Linked DNA regions of Homo sapiens. The protein of the gene in region 1 interacts with the protein of each later gene in a biochemical or structural test. Each region holds a gene or a part of one and is shown in the gene's direction. Other genes may lie near its edges. The genes, in order: FZD8, SDCBP and LRP6.

Region 1 (7,541 bases):
TATAAAAATAATCTCACCTGTTTAAAGCTAGCAGAGATTGATGAGGCCAGTTCACCTCTACCTCCCCTTCCATTTATGGACTGAGAGACTCAAGACATAACCCTTTGAAAGGCAGATTTTTAAAACACCAAGATGCCCCAATATTACCATTAGAGGTTTTGTTATTGTTGTTGTGGGTTTTGTCTTTTTTTTTTTTTTTTTTTTTTTTTTGAGACAGGGTCTCTTTCTATTACCTAACCTGGAGTACAGGCATGATCACGGCTCACTACAGCCTCAAACTCATGGACTCAAGCGATCCTCCCACCTCAGCGCCTCAAGTAGCTGGGACCACAGGTGCGTGCTACAGGCCCGACTAATTTTTTTTTTTGTTTTAGACAGACTCTTACTGTGTTGCCCAGGTTGGAGTGCAGTGGCAAAATCTCAGCTCACTGCAACCTCTGCCTCCCAGGTTCAAGCAATTCTCTTGCCTGAGTCTCCCAAGTAGCTGGGATTACAGGCACCCACCACCATGTCCAGCTAATTTTTGTATTTTTGGCAGAGACAAGGATTCCCCATGTTAGCCAGGCTGGTCTCGAACTCCTGACCTCTAGTGATCCTCTGACCTCGGCTTCCCAAAGTGCTAGGATTACAGGCGTGAACAACCACCGTGCCTGGCCTTGTTTTTTTGTTGTTTTTTTTGTTGTTGTTGTTGTTTTGTTTTTGGTTTTTTTTTTTTTGGTAGACTCGGGTCTTACTATGTTGCTCAGACTGCTCTCCAACTCCTGGCCTCAAGCGATCCTTCCACCTTGGCCTCCCAAAGCACTAAGACAAACGTAAGCCACTGAGCCCAGCCAGTGATAAGAATTTTATATTATCTAATAATATAGTACTTAACTGTTTTCTTGAGAGAAAATAATATTTGGCATTTATTTATTTAGAGACAGGGTCTTACTCTGTTGCCCAGGCTGGAGTGCAGTGATACAGTCATGGCTCACTGCAGCCCCAGCCTCCAAAACTCAAGTGATCCTCCCACCTCAGCCTCTGGTGTAGCTGGGACTACAGGCACATGCCACCGCACCCAGCTCATGTTTGTATTTTTTGTAGAGACAGGGTTTTGCTATGTTGCCCAGGCTGGTCTCGAACTCCTAGACTCAAGCGATCTGCCTGCCTCAGCGTCCCAAAGTGCTGGGATTACAGGCATGAGTCACCGTATCTGGCCAATATTTGGCAGTTTATAACACCTGAGAAATTGTATTAGTTACCAAAGAGTTCCTCATTTAATCTTTGGAACGTATCATTCTGTTAGTATATGCCAGGCTCTCTCTTCCATCCAGATTCTTATATTGGATTTTTAGATGGTAATCCACTGGAACATGATTTCCCCAAAGTTTCTTAAATTTGTTACAGACAGTATTGATAGTCCCCTGTCTAACTCGGTAGCCAACGTTTTGTAAAACCTTCCCTCCTCTGAGGTAGATTCCTGATTCCAACTGTTTACATTATTTGCTTGCAGGCCATTCAGCAACAAGCCATCTGCTCAGAAATCCCTTTAGAAACTTCCCTACATTATTTATGTCACTACTAAAGCTATTTCCCCTCCCCTAAAAAACAGCTGCTTTACATACAATGAAAATATCATTATTTAGCCATAGAAGTTGATATATGTTCTGGTTACTTCTAGGTAACCCATCATTACCTTTTACGCACTAATTGGCTACAGAAGTCTCTCCCTTCTCTGAAAGACTACCAAGTAGCCGTTTAATTTAACAGTAGATGTAAAATGCGATTCTTATATTCTCTCAATTAAAAGTACATTTGTCATGACTTTTATGTAACTGGTTTTAACCTCACAAATCACTAAGATCTCCCAAATAGCTGATATGATTTTTGAAATTCTGAACTTCAGTCTGCTTATTTTCTCATGCAAACTTAACATACTTACCCAAAATTTCCACATTCCACATCATCAAACTTTTCATCTTGTCTCAAAAGAAAAAAGAAAAAAAATTTAAAGCCAATTAAGAGCCAAAATCAACCATTTTCAGCTTCAATTTCAATTTTCAAATGTCAGTTTGTTTTTACCCAATTCTAGCAAATTTATGTAGTGTAATTCTAAACTTCACTATTTGACATTTCCCCGTGGAAGAAAAGCAACAGAAACTTTTCACCATCTGTGTTGCTCTTGGAAACCAGCCCCTCCCATCTGTGGTGCGGGCAGTGCAGCACCCTTGCTGGTCTTTGGGGCTCTGCCTGCACCGCTGCCCTCAGATCAGCACTGGAACCTCTGGCAATTACCTGCAGCTGATGCGTTCTGGAGACTCGCCCTCTGGAAACAAGGTGCCAACCGCAGAGATAGTGAATTTCTACATTCAACATACAAGTGGGAATTCCGATTTGCAGGAGGTGAGAAAAGAAAAAAAATTTTTTAATCAAGTAAAGGTCTAGTCTGTATTTTTGAATAGCCCGTTTTCTGCTGAATCAGCTAATATTTCTGAAGCCTTTGAATTCCGAATTCCTACGGACTTTAGTTTTTCCAAAACAAAAGTGGGAAGGAAGTGTTGTTTTTCAGTATAAAGAGGTTCAACTCTATAGACTAAAACTAAAAAAGTTAAAAAGATAGGGGGGTATAACTATAGATTGGTGGATATGCCTAGAACACAGAACTTGCCAAAAACGGGGCGCTGGGGCAGGGTGCGGTCTGACAGTCTACTTGTAATATGTTTCATAATGAGGTTGCTAACTGAGCTACAGAAAGCAGGAGGAGGAAGACATAGATGCCATCAGCTCAAGCAATCTACAAATACTGCTGGTTATTTTTGTTTTATGACAAGAGTTGTTTCTGAACGGACAACCACGAGCTACCACCACCACCAGCAGCGCCCCGAAAACCGGAACTGGCCTCAAATGTACTTTTAATTCTTTTGCTCTGTCCCCACGCCCTCTGCAACTTTTGTTCTCCAACTGTACTTGTTCCGGTATGAAACCTGGCAAATAGCAAAAATCTTGAAACAAGAAGAGAGTGAGAGAGCGGAGAGAAAAGGGAGGGAAGGAAGGAGAGGGAGGAGGGGAAGAGGAGGAGGGGGGAGAGAAAGTGGTGGGGGAGAGAGAGAAGGAAAGGAGGTGGGGAGAGAGAGAGAGGGAAGACAGAAGAGAGGCAGGGAGGAAGAGGGAGAGAGGGGGACGGAGATGGGGAGGAGGCGGGAGGGAGGGAGAGAAAGAGAGAGAGAAACATATTCTGCCACCCTCCTGGCTAACTGAAATGCTTGTTCCCGAGATTACAGTAATTACTGCCCCAGCATGAGTTCCATACAAGCGCTAAATGAAACAGCACATCAATTAAAAAATAAACACTCCATTCTAGGAGAAAGACAGCCCCCTGGGACGCCCTAACAAGCGTAAATGAACCTGCCAGGCCGCCGGCCCGGGCCGCCCGCAGCCCCCCTCCCGGCCCGTCTTAAGGTGGCGGCGGAGCCGGCGGGGGCAGCGTTCGCTGGCGGTGGCCCAAGCGGCTGCTAAAAGCAGCCCGGGTCCGGCTCCGGCCTCGTGCAGAGAGCAGATACGTGTCGCGGAGTCCACGCCAGAGCGCAGCGCCGCCTCCCACCAGAGAAAAGGAGGCTCTGGCAAAAGCCTGTGAACTTGGGATGGATGAATAGACGTCCTGAAAGAACGAAGGGAAGACAGGGAATCCAGCCCCAGAGTTTCCAGCCTGTCCTATTTATAAGTTTCGAGGTTTGTTTTGAATTTTAGAAAGAAATTGAATGATTTTTCCTAAGAAAGCACGGCGGCTCGGGGCTTCCTATATTTTATCTCACCTAATTATCAAAGCCCCCTTGGAGATCTGTGCTATGATCACCCAACTCTCTAGGTGGGGAAACTGAGGCTCCCCCAGGTCACGCAGCGGAGGCGGGAGGAGAGTCTCTGGCGGGCATTTGTCCCCCGCGCCCCTCGCGCGCCCAAGGCTGGGCTCCGGGGCATCTCACCCGGGCCGTCCCGGGTCCAGCCCCAGTTTAGAATGACTCCACACCCCCCACATCTCCAAGTCTCAGAAACCATCGTTCTGAGAACCCCAAGGAGGACACCCTTTCCCGGGTCTTCTGCAGCGCCGAGCCCCGGCAGGCCTCCCCGGCGCTCGCCTGCTGCGAGACCTTCCTGCCGCCCCGAGGAGCACGAGACCCCAGCCGCCTGCAGATCACCCACATTTGCGGAGGGTGGCAGCAGGGGCTTGGCTGGTTTGAAACGCGCCGGGGAGGCGCGCGCTGCACCAAACCCCGTCCCTGTCCCCAAGGGCAGACTCGGGGTAAGGGGACCAAGACCTCCGACGCACTCAGCGCCATGGGGACAGCCATGGCCAACACTCTGTCTCTGCGGTCAATCCCAAGGTTACCAAAACTCTCCATCCGCAGAGAGCGCGCACAGCAGTGCGGACACTCGGGGACTGCCTTAAGGAAGGCTGAGCCCTGGGAGCGCGTGGACTCCGCCCTACCGCCCGGCGATTGGCTCGCGGGGCTGGGGGCGGAGACCGAGTCCGCGCTGTATAAATATTCATGAGCCGGCAGCGCGGCGCGAGCGGGGCTGGAGCCGGGAAGTTGGGCTAAGGGCGCTGCTCCCGCCGAGGAGGAGGCGGCGGCTGGGCGCGGGCCGCGCCACTCAGGTGTCCGCTCCGCCTTCCGGTCTGGATTTGCTCCTGGGTGTCCAGCAGGAAGGAGACTGTGTGCACCTCGCCCGACTGCGGCCGGAGCGCGGCGCTGACTTTTCCAGGCGGCGGGGGTCCGTCTGTCCCGGCGGCGGACGGACGAAGGACGGACGCCGGAGAAAGAGGGCGGCGGCCTGGGCCGAGGCGGGTCCCCAACTCCGGCGGCGGCGGCGGCGGCTTGGCCTTGGGGGCGGGCATGAGCCCCCGGGGGCCGAGTGGTGGCCGCCAGGGCTGACCCGGCGCGGCAAGCGGCCCGGCCCAGCCATCTTGACTGCGCACCGCGGCCCCAGAGGAAACTTGCGGCGCCTCCGCCCTCTCTGTCCGGCGGAGTCACCGCCGCCCGGCGCGGCGGGGAGAAGTGGTCGGGCGCGCGGAGAGGAGGCGAGCGAGCGCGGGACGATGAGCCGAGGCCCGGCCGCTCTGCGCCGCGAGGGCTGAGCGCGACCCGGGGCCAGCAGAGCGGACCTACGGACTGTGGCGCGCGCCTGCAGCCGCCTTCAAACCCCCGGAGCGGCGGAAAGGAGTGCGGAAGGGCCCTGCCCAGGCTGCGGGCCGCGCCGCTGCGGACGCGCCCCTAGAAGGGGTTAGATTATCGGCAGACCCCCCTCCCGGGCGAAGCATAAGGGAGACCCCAGATCACCCGCTGTACCCGTCTGCGGCTCTCTCGTGGGCCCCCCCCCCGGCACCCCTCTGCGCGCCGCCTGGAGGGCGAGGGCACCGGGCCGAGGCGCACAGCATGGAGTGGGGTTACCTGTTGGAAGTGACCTCGCTGCTGGCCGCCTTGGCGCTGCTGCAGCGCTCTAGCGGCGCTGCGGCCGCCTCGGCCAAGGAGCTGGCATGCCAAGAGATCACCGTGCCGCTGTGTAAGGGCATCGGCTACAACTACACCTACATGCCCAATCAGTTCAACCACGACACGCAAGACGAGGCGGGCCTGGAGGTGCACCAGTTCTGGCCGCTGGTGGAGATCCAGTGCTCGCCCGATCTCAAGTTCTTCCTGTGCAGCATGTACACGCCCATCTGCCTAGAGGACTACAAGAAGCCGCTGCCGCCCTGCCGCTCGGTGTGCGAGCGCGCCAAGGCCGGCTGCGCGCCGCTCATGCGCCAGTACGGCTTCGCCTGGCCCGACCGCATGCGCTGCGACCGGCTGCCCGAGCAAGGCAACCCTGACACGCTGTGCATGGACTACAACCGCACCGACCTAACCACCGCCGCGCCCAGCCCGCCGCGCCGCCTGCCGCCGCCGCCGCCCGGCGAGCAGCCGCCTTCGGGCAGCGGCCACGGCCGCCCGCCGGGGGCCAGGCCCCCGCACCGCGGCGGCGGCAGGGGCGGTGGCGGCGGGGACGCGGCGGCGCCCCCAGCTCGCGGCGGCGGCGGTGGCGGGAAGGCGCGGCCCCCTGGCGGCGGCGCGGCTCCCTGCGAGCCCGGGTGCCAGTGCCGCGCGCCTATGGTGAGCGTGTCCAGCGAGCGCCACCCGCTCTACAACCGCGTCAAGACAGGCCAGATCGCTAACTGCGCGCTGCCCTGCCACAACCCCTTTTTCAGCCAGGACGAGCGCGCCTTCACCGTCTTCTGGATCGGCCTGTGGTCGGTGCTCTGCTTCGTGTCCACCTTCGCCACCGTCTCCACCTTCCTTATCGACATGGAGCGCTTCAAGTACCCGGAGCGGCCCATTATCTTCCTCTCGGCCTGCTACCTCTTCGTGTCGGTGGGCTACCTAGTGCGCCTGGTGGCGGGCCACGAGAAGGTGGCGTGCAGCGGTGGCGCGCCGGGCGCGGGGGGCGCTGGGGGCGCGGGCGGCGCGGCGGCGGGCGCGGGCGCGGCGGGCGCGGGCGCGGGCGGCCCGGGCGGGCGCGGCGAGTACGAGGAGCTGGGCGCGGTGGAGCAGCACGTGCGCTACGAGACCACCGGCCCCGCGCTGTGCACCGTGGTCTTCTTGCTGGTCTACTTCTTCGGCATGGCCAGCTCCATCTGGTGGGTGATCTTGTCGCTCACATGGTTCCTGGCGGCCGGTATGAAGTGGGGCAACGAAGCCATCGCCGGCTACTCGCAGTACTTCCACCTGGCCGCGTGGCTTGTGCCCAGCGTCAAGTCCATCGCGGTGCTGGCGCTCAGCTCGGTGGACGGCGACCCGGTGGCGGGCATCTGCTACGTGGGCAACCAGAGCCTGGACAACCTGCGCGGCTTCGTGCTGGCGCCGCTGGTCATCTACCTCTTCATCGGCACCATGTTCCTGCTGGCCGGCTTCGTGTCCCTCTTCCGCATCCGCTCGGTCATCAAGCAACAGGACGGCCCCACCAAGACGCACAAGCTGGAGAAGCTGATGATCCGCCTGGGCCTGTTCACCGTGCTCTACACCGTGCCCGCCGCGGTGGTGGTCGCCTGCCTCTTCTACGAGCAGCACAACCGCCCGCGCTGGGAGGCCACGCACAACTGCCCGTGCCTGCGGGACCTGCAGCCCGACCAGGCACGCAGGCCCGACTACGCCGTCTTCATGCTCAAGTACTTCATGTGCCTAGTGGTGGGCATCACCTCGGGCGTGTGGGTCTGGTCCGGCAAGACGCTGGAGTCCTGGCGCTCCCTGTGCACCCGCTGCTGCTGGGCCAGCAAGGGCGCCGCGGTGGGCGGGGGCGCGGGCGCCACGGCCGCGGGGGGTGGCGGCGGGCCGGGGGGCGGCGGCGGCGGGGGACCCGGCGGCGGCGGGGGGCCGGGCGGCGGCGGGGGCTCCCTCTACAGCGACGTCAGCACTGGCCTGACGTGGCGGTCGGGCACGGCGAGCTCCGTGTCTTATCCAAAGCAGATGCCATTGTCCCAGGTCTGAGCGGAGGGGAGGGGGCGCCCAGGAGGGGTGGGGAGGGGGGCGAGGAGA
Region 2 (6,205 bases), on another chromosome or scaffold:
CATTTATGGGGTGCTACCTAGTTCTTGCTTATCATTCTACAATGTAACAGATGTGTGATAGAAATATGTGACCTAGCTTAGGATTGTAGAAGTAGATGCACTTATATTTTACCAGGCTTATTCTTCTTTTATACTTACCTATTTATATTTTGTTCAACTTCTGATTGAGATTTTACATAAGTAAAAATATCCATGTGAGTGTAGTTATTGGTTAACAGTATTTGAGTTTTCTGTATTTATTTCATTGTGTGTTCTTTATAAGCCTGTGCATGTGGATTTAATATGCCCATCTTTTTAGTCTAACAAATAAACTTTAATCTTACTTGATTATACACAATTTAGCAAATGGGTAAAGGAATGCTTCAGCTCAAAAGGTAGAATTATGACCTTAAACTGTCATTTATTAAGCTGTAAAAGAACTCATCAAACTTTCTAACATGTGACTCGCTTTTCCCCTAAATATGATTATGTACTGATAATTTGGTATTCTATCAGACTCAGACGCTTGCATTTATTAAAGTTGTCCTACTGTATTTTCCTTAGTTTTGTATTCCAAGTTGAAGGGGGGGATTGTGGTTGGTCAGGTGGGTCATGATTTGGTATAGAAATTGCCATTGAAATCTCACTTTTTTGCCTTATTCTTTGGAGTTGCTGTCTTGATAAATTTTTCAGTTTCTTTTGAGGTGATAACTTAATATACTCATATAGTTTTTCCTTTTTTTCTTTTTCTTTCTTTTTTGTCACTGGGGTAGAGTTTTCAACATAAACAGTTGTTTCCTAATTTTCCAGCGTTTAAAACCGTATCATAGTAGTGGTAAATGACAAAAATTATTTTCTTATTATCTAGGGTATATTTGTTCAGCTAGTCCAGGCTAATTCTCCAGCCTCATTGGTTGGTCTGAGATTTGGGGACCAAGTACTTCAGATCAATGGTGAAAACTGTGCAGGATGGAGCTCTGATAAAGCGCACAAGGTGCTCAAACAGGCTTTTGGAGAGAAGATTACCATGACCATTCGTGACAGGTAAGCTGTTACTAAACAGCTCAAATGAAAATTCAATACTAGTTTTCCATTTTTTTGGGCTTTCAGAGTTTGTGAGTATATTATTTTGTTGCAGAAAATGATCAAATGTTATTGATGAGCCTTATAGTCTTGCAGTTGTGTGGTGCAGATTTTTCTTACATTGTTTTTAAAGCATTCTGATACGATACCTTATTTCAGAGTTTATAGGACAAATCTCTCTAGAAAATAGAAAACGTATGTTGGAGAAGTAACTGAGTTGCAGGGCATCTCTGGGCTCACTTTCCAACTTACTGCTTAGATACATCCAGCCTAGGGTGTTCACACACAGTGGTCCCTCATTGTGAGGGTCAGAGCCCATGCAGACTTCCAAGTAGTATGGGAGTTCTGAAAACCGTATCAAGACTTTTGGGTAGTTATGAAGCAGTAGTTTTCAAGAACATGGAATATTCTATTTAGCAGCTCATTCATTTAGAACTTAAACATTTAGCACATGAAATAGGGGCCTCCATTTATTTTCTTGTCTACTCCATACCCAATTAAGGGTAGACGTATATTGCATTGTTACAGTAAGCTTTGAGTTTTTGTTCCTTCTCAGTGAAACTTCTGTTTTATCTTTGTGTTTCCAGTTTCTCATTCAGTTTAGGTATTTCGTAAATGTTTCAGATGAATGTCCTTTTTACTTTCTATCTAAGCAGAGTTTCAAAGAGTAAGTTGTACTAACAGGAAGAAATGCCTCTTCTGAATTTAATAATGTAAACACAAGTTGATCCTAAAACCCTTATGATAACATGATAACAGAGTTTATAGAGAATCAAGCAAATGTGACTGCTATAACAACTCTAGAGGGACAGCTGGATGCCTTTTAATAATAGCTGCATGCCTCCCTTTCCAAAGGGGCTTGAGGAACTTAAGTCTTACTGCTGCTCTAGTTTTTCTTTTCAAAGATAGCAATGTATAAAATTTTCAAAATCAAGATGTGAGAAATATTTTAAAGGTTTTAAATAAAAGAAATAGTCCTAAAAATGATTTGGCTCTAGAAAATACCAAAAGTTAATAAAAAATAAAAATTATCTTTACCACTGTGATTTAGTTAAAAAGCCTATGTCATTCTTAATGCTGTAAAGTCTAATTATAAAAGAAAAACATATTGATAAAACCATATAAAGCAGTTGTCTTTTATACTTAAAGAAGGAAATGTTGATTAGTAAATCAGTCAAACCATAATGAATAAACTTAAAAAAAACTTTTACACAAAGATGTTCCGTGAATGTATAAAATCAGAGCCATAAGTTGCTCTTATTAGAAACAGTGTTTATTATAAAAGTATCCAATATGGCAACATTTATGCTATATGAAATCCATTAAAATGTTTAGCTTAGAATTAAGTTTTTAATTGAACCAATTATGTTTGTAGGCCCTTTGAACGGACGATTACCATGCATAAGGATAGCACTGGACATGTTGGTTTTATCTTTAAAAATGGAAAAATAACATCCATAGTGAAAGATAGCTCTGCAGCCAGAAATGGTCTTCTCACGGAACATAACATCTGTGAAATCAATGGACAGAATGTCATTGGATTGAAGGTAAGGAACAGACTTTGTGCCATGTTCTGCTGCAGTTTTAGAAAATGTCTGTCTTTTGACTGTATTTAGGTGGCGCTGTTTTCATATTGACTTAGGTGGGAGATGGGGAACGTGGGGCCTGAACTCTTGGTCTGGCCAGTCACCGGAATTATTTGGGCTGTCATCTAGAACTACAGTTCCTATAACAAGTGGGCTGGAATAAATGATCTCAGAAGTACCTCACACTAGAATTCTGTGGAAATATGGGCAACAAAGATTTAGAATATGAATAGTGGCCCAGCATTTCTCAATCCAGGAATATAAGGAAATGAATAATAGTTTTGGTTCATATTAATACTTTATTTTTATAGTTTTTCTCCTCCACAAATTCCTAAATAAGTCTGTCTTAAGGTCAAAAAGTTTTAAGCATGACCTCCTCATTTCATAGAATTTGATTTAGAATACACAGTTAATAAGAGGAGATGGTAATATTGTATATGGGGAAAATTATCTAATATTCAGAAAGGAAAAGTTTTTTTTTGGTTAAAATATTCAACTCAGTTTACTTAAGCAATTTGGTTACTAGCTGTAAAATAGTGTACAATTAAACTTGGTAAGAAATACTAGAAAAAATTAGAAATACCAAGACATATATTTTGTATTTCTTTACCAAGACTGGCATAGTTTTGTATTTATTAAATAAAGCCTCTGTGGAATTAATTTTTAATATGTGTTTTTATCAGGACTCTCAAATTGCAGACATACTGTCAACATCTGGGACTGTAGTTACTATTACAATCATGCCTGCTTTTATCTTTGAACATATTATTAAGCGGTAAGTAAACAATTCCTCAACTTAATGCATATGGTCATGTGACTTAATATAAGCACTATACTTTAATTCTCAGCCCTTTGGTTCTTTTACCCAAGGAATGGATACTGGTGTTTTATCTAGAAATTTGAAGTAAGTTATTTAAATCAGAGGGTTGGTAAGGATGAGCTCTTACAACTTCCCAAGTACGGAATAAAATTCACATATACTTTCCTCAGTTTTTATAATGCCTGGTAGAAAAAAGGTATGCAAGGAGAAGTGGGCATGCTTTCAGCTTTCAATTTGCAGTGCAATTGACTGCAGTTGCACTGCCTACCACCCCTCTGCTCAGTATAAATATAGTTGTGGTGGTTCGTAATGGAGAATTCTTGCTGGTGGAATGCTAAGAGTAAGTTTCCCTTCTCTCCAGAATCTCAAGAGGCAGATAGACAAGTGTGGTGTGTTGGTGCTATCTGTGCTCAGGAACTGAGGATTAGAAAGCCAAGTGATCAGAACTGAAAAGAGGCAACAAGGTTCCTTCTATAGAGCTTTTCATATCCTAGCATCTACCATAGCTGTTTTTGTCAAGCCAGCTTGGAATCCTTTCAGAAGCTCTATTATGCATGTGAAAATGAGATTTAAAAGATTCATAAACATAACCATTGTAATGAAATTTTTGTGTTGGCTTCTGGATAGAATGCACCTAGCTACCCTTGGAGGGGGTAAAAAGGAGTTATTGTCATGACTAATTTTTCTAGGGTTCTCTTTTCTTAAATCACTGATGGATCCCTCTACCCCAACTCATCACAGCCTTGTCATTTTCTTTCTGTTTTTTAAAAATCACCATGTTTAATGCACAGGAATTCATTTGTATCCTAACTTCTCTAGCCAAATACAGATAGTCTTTCCCACTGAGTGTCTGTCAACAACTAGATTACCAGAGATGCTTCTGGACTCATTTAAAAGATCTTTCCCTTCTCTCCATTCATATTTGATGCTAACAGGTGCTAAATTGGAATTGGGAATTTTCTTGGATTAATGTAGCATTTTGAAAAACAAAAACCAGAATCTCGGTATATAATAAAAGTACCTCTCTTGTAGGATGGCACCAAGCATTATGAAAAGCCTAATGGACCACACCATTCCTGAGGTTTAAAATTCACGGCACCATGGAAATGTAGCTGAACGTCTCCAGTTTCCTTCTTTGGCAACTTCTGTATTATGCACGTGAAGCCTTCCCGGAGCCAGCGAGCATATGCTGCATGAGGACCTTTCTATCTTACATTATGGCTGGGAATCTTACTCTTTCATCTGATACCTTGTTCAGATTTCAAAATAGTTGTAGCCTTATCCTGGTTTTACAGATGTGAAACTTTCAAGAGATTTACTGACTTTCCTAGAATAGTTTCTCTACTGGAAACCTGATGCTTTTATAAGCCATTGTGATTAGGATGACTGTTACAGGCTTAGCTTTGTGTGAAAACCAGTCACCTTTCTCCTAGGTAATGAGTAGTGCTGTTCATATTACTTTAGTTCTATAGCATACTTGCATCTTTAACATGCTATCATAGTACATTTAGAATGATTGCCTTTGATTTTTTTTTTAAATTCTGTGTGTGTGTGTGTAAAATGCCAATTAAGAACACTGGTTTCATTCCATGTAAGCATTAAACAGTGTATGTAGGTTTCAAGAGATTGTGATGATTCTTAAATTTTAACTACCTTCACTTAATATGCTTGAACTGTCGCCTTAACTATGTTAAGCATCTAGACTAAAAGCCAAAATATAATTATTGCTGCCTTTCTAAAAACCCAAAATGTAGTTCTCTATTAACCTGAAATGTACACTAGCCCAGAACAGTTTAATGGTACTTACTGAGCTATAGCATAGCTGCTTAGTTGTTTTTGAGATTTTTTAGTCAACACATAATGGAAACTTCTTTCTTCTAAAAGTTGCCAGTGCCACTTTTAAGAAGTGAATCACTATATGTGATGTAAAAGTTATTACACTAAACAGGATAAACTTTTGACTCCCCTTTTGTTCATTTGTGGATTAAGTGGTATAATACTTAATTTTGGCATTTGACTCTTAAGATTATGTAACCTAGCTACTTTGGGATGGTCTTAGAATATTTTTCTGATAACTTGTTCCTTTTCCTGACTCCTCCTTGCAAACAAAATGATAGTTGACACTTTATCCTGATTTTTTTCTTCTTTTTGGTTTATGTCTATTCTAATTAAATATGTATAAATAAAGTTACATTTTAGTCTGTCTATTACTGCATCATTTGCTTTCACCAAACTTATGCATGATCTAGAAGACAGGCAGGTGAAATTCACTTTCAGCTGTGGGAGACATCATCTCCCAGAACAAGCTGACATTCAGGGGCCCTAAGAACAGCTCTCAGTGCTGAGACTGAGTGTCAGGAAAATTGCTTCCAGCTGGGAACCCCAGATTACCAGGGCCAAAAGAAGAGCTGGTTCACACCTGCCATGCAGCAGGAACTCATTGAGGCTACTGATTGTCCCTAGCAATACCTGAGACCAGGTAATATTTAATAACACTGAAACTGACTTTGGAAATTCTATTAGTGTGGTCTGACTCAAGTTTTTTCTCCTATGTCATACTACCTGCAAGATACAACAATGTTTTTAAAGAGTATAGAAAAAATAATAAGTCACACACTTACCATGGTTCAGAGGTTGAATATAAAAGGAAATCTGCTACTGCTATACAGCTTACCTTGTTTGAAATTTAGAAGAGAAAAAAATATTTGATTATCTACCTGAGTCTGAAGATAATTTC
Region 3 (7,672 bases), on another chromosome or scaffold:
GGCCTCCTGACCTCGTGATCCGCCCACCTCGGCCTCCCAAAGTGCTGGGATTACAGGCGTGAGCCACCGCGCCCGGCCTTTTTTTTTTTTTTTTTTTTTTTCAGACAGAGTCGCACTCTGTTACCCAGGCTGGGTGGCAATGGCGTGATCTTGGCTCACTGCAACCTCCGCCTCCCGGGTTCAAGCAATTCTCCTGTCTCAGCCTCCTGAGTAGCTCGGATTACAGGCACGTGTTACCATGCCTGGCTAATTTTTCTGTTTTTAGTAGAGATGGGGTTTCACCATGTTAGCCGTGCCGGTTTCGGACTCCCGGCCTCAGATGATCCATCCACCTCGGCCTCCTAGAGTGCTGGGATTACAGGCGTGAGCCACCGCGCCCGGCCTCCACCTGGATGTTTCATAGACACCTCCAATACAAAAGAGCCATTGTTAAACTTATTACCCACTCCTTCTTGAAATACTTCTTAGGTTTTCTTTTCTTTGTAAAGGAGACTCCCATTACTCTCTGTTTCTCTCTCAATTCACAACTAAAAGTCCTGTTTTAATCTCGTATTCTTTAAATCCATGATGTCTTTTCAGTCCTCAGCGCTGCTGTCCTGATTGCCCCTTTCATAGACTTCTGTACAATGTGCAAAATTCTTCAATGTCCGCATTGTTAATATGCTAAAATCTAAACTTCTTAGCATGGCTTGAAAAGGTTTTTATTAATCAATAGCTATTTAATGGTCCTGCCTCAATTCCTGACATTCTCTAAAAGCATTCCATGCATCAGCTATATGAATCTACTTTCAAATCCCCAACATACTAAGTTCTCTAATGATTCAGTGTCTTTAAACCTACTATTGTGATTGAAATTTTTTTTCAGTCTTGTTGGCCTGGCAAAGTCTGATTTGTATTTCCAACCTCAGCGCTAGGGTTATTTTCCCTTCTTTTGTTTTGTTTTGTTTTGTTTTTTTGAGACAGAGTTTCACTCTGTTGCCCAGTCTGGAGTTCAGGGGCGCAATCTCGGCTCACTGCAACCTTCGCCTCCTGGGTTCAAGTGATTCCTGTGCCTCAGCCTCGTGAGTAGCTGGGATTAAAGTTGTGAGCCACTGCGCCTGGCCCTTTTTTCCCTTCTTTGAATTGTCTAGGCAGAAAAGCATCTCTACACTTAGCAATTTTGTCTTTTTTTTTTTTTTAGTTGGAGACAGGGTCTCACTGTATTGCCCAGGCTGGAGTGCAGTGGCAAGATCACAGCTCACTGCAGCATTGGCCTCCTAGGCTCAAGTGATCCTCCAACCTTAGCCTCCCGAATAGCTAGGACTCCAGGTACACGCCACCATGTCTAGCTAATTTTTGTATTTTTTGTAGAGATGGGGTTTCGCCATGTTGCCCAGGCTGGTCTCGAGCTCCTGGGCTCAAGTGATCTGCCCACTTTGACTTCCCAAAGTGCTGGGATTACAGTTGTATGCCACTGTGCCCTGCAGATTTTAATATTTTAATTACTCACTTTATTAATCAGTGTTTCCAAACTAGGCTGTAAGCTTCTTGAGGGTAGGGACTATGATTACTCTCATCTTTATATCCCCAACACTTAACAGAGTGATTGGTATCTGATTGGCACTTAAAAGAATGAGAAACAAAATTAGTTATGCAGTAATAATGGCATTCTCTCTAGGGCTTAAGCTTAACCTATAGATTTTCACTTAAGCATCTTTTAAAAATTTGTAGTAAATATATAGTACATTAAACAAAATTGAAGAACAGAAAAGCAAACTACATCTCATATTATTTCACCATCCTAATGCCTATTTTAGTGCACTTACTTTTGGTCTTTGCTCAAATATGTGCTATATATATGTGTGTGCATTTATGTTTGTATATTATATATATTTTTATTTTACATAGCTATAATCAAATGTACATGCACTTTCACTTTTTAAAAGCTTAACTCGGCCGGGCGCGGTGGCTTACGCCTGTAATCCCAGCCCTTTGGGAGGCCAAGGAGAGCGGATCACTTGAGGTCGGTAGTTCGAGACCAGCCTGACCAACATGGAGAAAGCCCGTCTCTACTAAAGATACAAAATTAGCTGGGTGTGGTGGCGCATGCCTGTAATCCCAGCTACTCAGGAGGATGAGGCAGGACAATCACTTGAACCTGGGAGGAGGAAGTTGTGGTGAGCCGGGATTGTGCCATTTTACTCCAGTCCAGGCAGCAAGAGCACAACTCCGTCTCAAAAAAAAAAAAAAAAAAAAAAAAAGCTTAACTCACTATAAACATTCAACACTGTTGCATAATCCTCTAAATTATTATTTTTCAGCAGTGTGTAATATCTCATTCCCCTACTTAGGTTGATAGTCTGAGGAGATTTAGGTTGTACCGCATTTTCTTTTTTATTTTATTTTATTTTTTTCGAGACGGAGTCTCGCTCTTTCGCCCAGGCTGGACTGCAGTGGCGCTATCTAGGCTCACTGCAAGCTCCGCCTCCCGGGTTCACGCCATTCTCCTGCTTCAGCCTCCTGAGTAGCTGGGATTACAGGCGCCCGCCACCGCGCCCGGCTAATTTTTTGTATTTTTAGTAGAGACGGGGTTTCACCGTGTTAGCCAAGATGGTCTCGATCTCCTGACCTCGTGATCCGCCTGCCTCGGCCTCCCAAAGTGCTGGGATTACAGCCGTGAGCCACCGTGCCCGGCCAGTTGTACCGCATTTTCTATTATAAATAGGGACAGATCCAGGCTTTGTGGGACTTGAAGCTTATACAATTTTGTATAATACAATTATACAGAAGAGGAATTCAAAATTATCTTTGTTTTGCAAATAGGACCATGTGAACATACCATAAAGGCCCCTCCCCAGACATTGGAAGGGGCCTGTGAAAGTGAAGGTTAACTTTCTTTTCTTTTTTTTTTTTTTTCTGAGACGCAATCTTGCTCTGTTGCCCAGGCTGGAGTGTAATGACGCGATATCGGCTCACTGCAACCTGCGCCTCCTGGATTCAAGCCATTCTCCTGCCTCTGCCTCCTGAGCAGCTGGGATGACAGGCGTGTGCCACCATGCCCGGCTAATTTTTTTTGTATTTTTAGTAGAGACGGGGGTTTCACCATGTTGGACCAGGCTGGTCTCGAACTCCTGACCTCGTGATCTGTCCGCCTCGGCCTCCCAAAGTGCTGGGATTACAGGCCTGAGCCACCCGCCCCCGGCCCAGTTTCCTGCTTTGAGGAAGCCAGAATACAAAACTCACTTGGTTCTTAGAAGCAGGTCATTTAAATAAACGGTGACTAGACCTCAGGTGAATTTGGGAGAAAGTGATTTGGCTGTTTCTGCTGTCCATCTACTTACAAACCTGCAGCACCTTTGGTTCAGCGCGCATTTCTTGGAAGGAGCGGAGTGGCTTAAGTCAGAGACCTGGATTGGGCTGAGGTACTGCTATTCATTACTTGAGTGGCCCTGGGTAAGTCATTAACCTCTCAGGTTCTCATTTTGCTCCTCTGTGCAATAAAGAATAAGTAACAAAACCTGCCTTTCCCCAGGGTAGTTTTGAGTGTCAAATATGATAACTTGTGTTCAAGCACTAGTGAACTCCAATGTCACTGAGGTACTTGTTAACATTGTGGTAGCAGCTCCACTTTCTTGCCCATCTGCCTCCAGGTAAGGGCGTGTGACAGCTGGGCAGGATGCATCTGATGGCTCCATTAGGGTTAACTGTTGGAGCGCCTCTGCCCAGACGAAAGCCTGGCAGGTGATTTCAGGGGGCGTCTGGGCCATTACTCCTGAATGCCCAATGCACTGGGAGTAGCAGAGGCTGTGCACAGTCTGAGATTCTAGGGAATCTTTTCCTTCTCAAGCTGAGAATTGATAATCGAAGCATGCCAAACATTCGTTATTATATGCAACTTGTAAAATCCTAAATAGTCTTGTCCAATTGTCCCTTTGCTCTTAGGTTTTGAGGCATTTATCTTGGAATTTTATCTGCCAGTTTAGAAATCTTTAGCTGGTCGGGCTTAATTCTGGGGGCAGTTTGTATTTCTGGGAAGGCGGGAGAAAAATGACAATCTCAGTTTTGAATTGGCGTTTTAATATCGTTCACCAGATCCACGCTGAAAGCCGGTGTAAACAGCGTTCAAAAATTCCGCCCTCCCAAAAAAAGGATGCTGAAACCGATTTCCAACCCCGAAGACGGAGCTCATCACCCCGCAACGGGATCCGCCGTGGCTCCCCGCGCGTGCACCGCGGCTGGGCAGTCTCAGGTGGCTGGGGGCGCGAGACCGGAGCCCCACCTGGCCCTGCCGGCGGCGGCCGCACAAAGAGCGGGGCAGACGGCTGCCCGGCCGAGCCGCAGAAAGTAGTCCCGACCACGCCGGCTCCAATGTTGTTCAACGCCGCCTCACGCCCTCCGCGGGGAGGGCCGAAGCGGCCGGTCCGGGAAAGAATCCCGCTGGAATGCGCCACCGGGAGGAGGCTTTCCCTCCCAGTTCGCCTCTGCTAGCCCAGAACCTCTCCCAGGGTCTCAGGCAGAGGCTGTGCGTGCGGTTGCCGACTCCCTTCCCTGGCCGTACAGGAGGCAGTACCGGGAGAAGGGGCTCGTTGCGCGCAGGGACACGGTCGCGGCGACCCTAGGAGGCGGTGCCGACCGTATCCCTGCGCCGCTGCGCGAGGCAGAGGCTGAATGAGGAGCTGCGCGGGGGAAGCGGGGCGCCGGGGGAGGAGGCGGCGGGATGGAAGCAGACGCTGGCGTCGCGCGAGCCCGGGGCCGAGCGGCGCGGTAGAGAGGGCGGCGGCGGCGCGCGCGGAACCTTGACGTGCCCCTTTCTTTCTTCTCTCGCTGGGAAGCTGGGAAGTATGAGCGTGCAGCCCTGCCGCTGCGGCGGCCGCCCCGGCTCCTCGCCTCCCCCACTTCTGGCCACCCCTCGCCGGTGAGAGAAGAGAACGCGAGAAGGGAAGATGGGGGCCGTCCTGAGGAGCCTCCTGGCCTGCAGCTTCTGTGTGCTCCTGAGAGGTGGGAAGAGTGGGGGCACTGGAAAGTTGGTGGGGTTCGGGGGGAGGTGGCCTTGTTGTATGTGTCTAGGGGGAGGGGAGGGACGGAGGAAGGGAGAAGGGGAGAGGAGCGGGGAGAGGCCTGGTCGTGGGGAGGGGGAGAGAAAGGGGCCCGGGAGCAGGGGCTGCGTGCACCGCCCGGCCACAATGCGGACCTGGCCTGGCTTCCCAGACCTTCCCCGGACACATCGGAGCTTCGATCCCGGCTGCTGGTCTTAGGGAACCCTTGGCACCCCATGCTGTCGGGATGACTGAGTGTCTGTGTGCCTCTCTCTGCCTGGGGTCTTCCAGGGAAAAGGGTCTTTGTACGTATTTTGGCTTTTAAAATGTTTGAGTCCGAGATGCTTTAAGGTTGGCCTTATCCATCGAAGCCCCGCCACCCACTCCCCACCCCGTTTCGGTGTTTCTTAGGTGAACTTTTAAAGCCCTCTTGCTATTTTTTCCAGGCCTTGTTACAGGTAATGATTGGCTTCCGTTTGGGATATAATGACCCTGGGTGAGAGCGCAGTTGGAAAGTGACTCCGGGGTTATAGGTCGAGCGTTTCAGCATTGGGAGCCTTCTGAGCTTCAGCCCATAATAAAATAAAACATTGCCCTTGTAACCTCTGGTATTCACGGCTTGCCCCTATTTTCGGAGTATGCAAGTGTACAGTTGGCACTAAGTAGGGAAATTCATCCTCGTGTGAAGAGGAGCCGGTCCTGGGACCAAAATGATAATTTGCTCTGCACCCCTGGGGACTGCTTGGCACTTTGGTAAATTGCATAGGCTGTTCGAGATAATTTGCTCTGGGAATCGCTTGAATTCGATGGCACTATGATGTTTTGAATTGGACTGCAAAGCTGACACATGCTCTGTGACTTTTGTGACAGTTCACAAAGATTTTTGACTGGCCCGTCGGCAGCTCTTCTCAAACTATTTAGTGTTGAACTTGAGATGGCTGTGATGGCTGTGGAGCATTTACCAGCAGAGGAATTTAAGTACTGCTCGATACGGTGGCTTGTAGTTTTGGTTTGGTAAAGTTCTTACTGGCGTTCATAGTAAGTTCTTTTCAGGCATGTGACCGCTGGTCGCTGGAGATTTTTAGGTGTTAACAAGCTAAACTTTTGTTAAGTTCTCCAAACTAATTTAAGTTTACAGAACACTAATAGTAACTAATAGTCTGTGACAGGTGTATATTTTTGCGTGTACTGTGTATATGTATTTCGGATGAGAATGATTGAGTTTTTTTTTGGAGGAGGAGAAATACTTTCTTCAGTTACTCTGTAGTAATGCAGCATTGTGTTTGCATGTTATATTACTTGATACTCTAAGCATATTACAAAGTTTTCCCACATGTAAACCCCGGAAAGGTAGTGTTCATTAGATTTTTGTGGCAGAAATTTTAATGAAGTGTTACGTACTGGAGAGGTTTCATAAGTATATACTTATTTTATTATTGGCATACTCTATTGAAAGGGGTTTTGCTGTAGCTGTTAGAAACAACTATATTTGACATAAGAATATGTATGTATTTTAAGACATAAGGTTAATAGGGCTGACAAATATGAGAACCAGCTGATTGGTTAGAGTCGTGGGAAAACTTATAACTTGGGATGTTTCTGGTTGTCTAGTTGTATTTCTTGGAGGAGAAGCGTGTGATGTAAATGCCGTTTGTTTAACACCAGCTTTGAGACCAGAGCTGGGTTTGTTCATTATTGGAATTTAGATAGGTTGCACTTATTTATGTAACAAGACCTGGAAGAGGTAATAGTTTAAATTGTCTCGTTTCCACTAGCAAAGTTTTCAGAAGTGGAGCTCTCGTTTTAAATGTGGCGAAATATGGTGTAAGGTGGTCTTCTAATATGTAACAGTACTGTACTTAGCTGTGAGTACATATTATTTGAAGTAAAACTGTCTTTTGATGTAAAATATTTTTGTTCATAATTTAGAATTAATTCATTCTTTGAGAATGTCATCCTCTGTTATAGTAAAGATATTTAGTCAACCTTGGACTCCAAGGAGAAAAATCTGATTGATTTGTTGCATTTAGGTCATTTTTTTCCCCCACAAAGAATTGGGGCTTTAACATTGGCTGGGTGTGATGGGGTATGTGAGAGTCTGGGAGACCTTCTGTCCTGTAGCCCTGTTGAATTAGTAGCAGAAAGCCAGGGAATACTGTTAGTGCTGTGTCCCTATCTCTATCATCACATGACAAGGTATAAAGGAAAGATTTGGGAATTTCAATACTAAAATCTTGGATTTAAAGCCCAAGTGTCACAACTTCATAACTTTGTGGTTCTGGTCTAGTCCGCTTCTCTAGGTCTCAGTTTCTTTACTGGTAGTGTGGATAATGATACCTGACTAGTTTGCAGGGTTATTGGGTGTTTTAAATGAAATAATATGGAGTACCTTGTTAATGTTACTTTTTGCTATAATTTTTGCTTGTTCAGGGACATATCCTCAAATGCTTTCATGATTTGAGATTTAATTTGTATAACGTTCACAATTTTTTTTTTTTTAAAGAGACAAAGTCTTGCTTCATCACTCAGTCTGGGGTGCAGTGGTGTAATCACAGCTCATTGCAGTCTCAAAGTCTTGGGCTTAAGTGATCCTCCTGCTTCATCCTCCCAAAGCTCTGAACTATAGGCACGTGCCACTATGCCCCCAATTTTTTGTA

The links.
Region 2: the proteins of FZD8 (region 1) and SDCBP interact in far-western blotting, tested with the Homo sapiens proteins (one study listed by IntAct).
Region 3: the proteins of FZD8 (region 1) and LRP6 form a complex in vitro, tested with the Homo sapiens proteins (one study listed by BioGRID).

Annotation. Positions count from the first base shown.
Region 1 is NC_000010.11:35,639,297-35,646,837, reverse strand, and holds the start of FZD8 (frizzled-8 precursor), read left to right. Parts: upstream 1-5,110; 5' UTR 5,111-5,408; coding exon 5,409-7,493; 3' UTR 7,494-7,541. Other genes in the region: zinc finger protein 469-like, read left to right, coding at 3,992-4,208, 4,425-5,110. UniProt on the Homo sapiens protein: Receptor for Wnt proteins. Component of the Wnt-Fzd-LRP5-LRP6 complex that triggers beta-catenin signaling through inducing aggregation of receptor-ligand complexes into ribosome-sized signalosomes.
Region 2 is NC_000008.11:58,577,186-58,583,390, forward strand, and holds the end of SDCBP (syntenin-1), read left to right. Parts: intron 1-847; coding exon 848-1,023; intron 1,024-2,437; coding exon 2,438-2,609; intron 2,610-3,331; coding exon 3,332-3,423; intron 3,424-4,500; coding exon 4,501-4,555; 3' UTR 4,556-5,673; downstream 5,674-6,205. UniProt on the Homo sapiens protein: Multifunctional adapter protein involved in diverse array of functions including trafficking of transmembrane proteins, neuro and immunomodulation, exosome biogenesis, and tumorigenesis.
Region 3 is NC_000012.12:12,263,986-12,271,657, reverse strand, and holds the start of LRP6 (low-density lipoprotein receptor-related protein 6 isoform b precursor), read left to right. Parts: upstream 1-4,613; 5' UTR 4,614-4,922; coding exon 4,923-4,977; intron 4,978-7,672. UniProt on the Homo sapiens protein: Component of the Wnt-Fzd-LRP5-LRP6 complex that triggers beta-catenin signaling through inducing aggregation of receptor-ligand complexes into ribosome-sized signalosomes.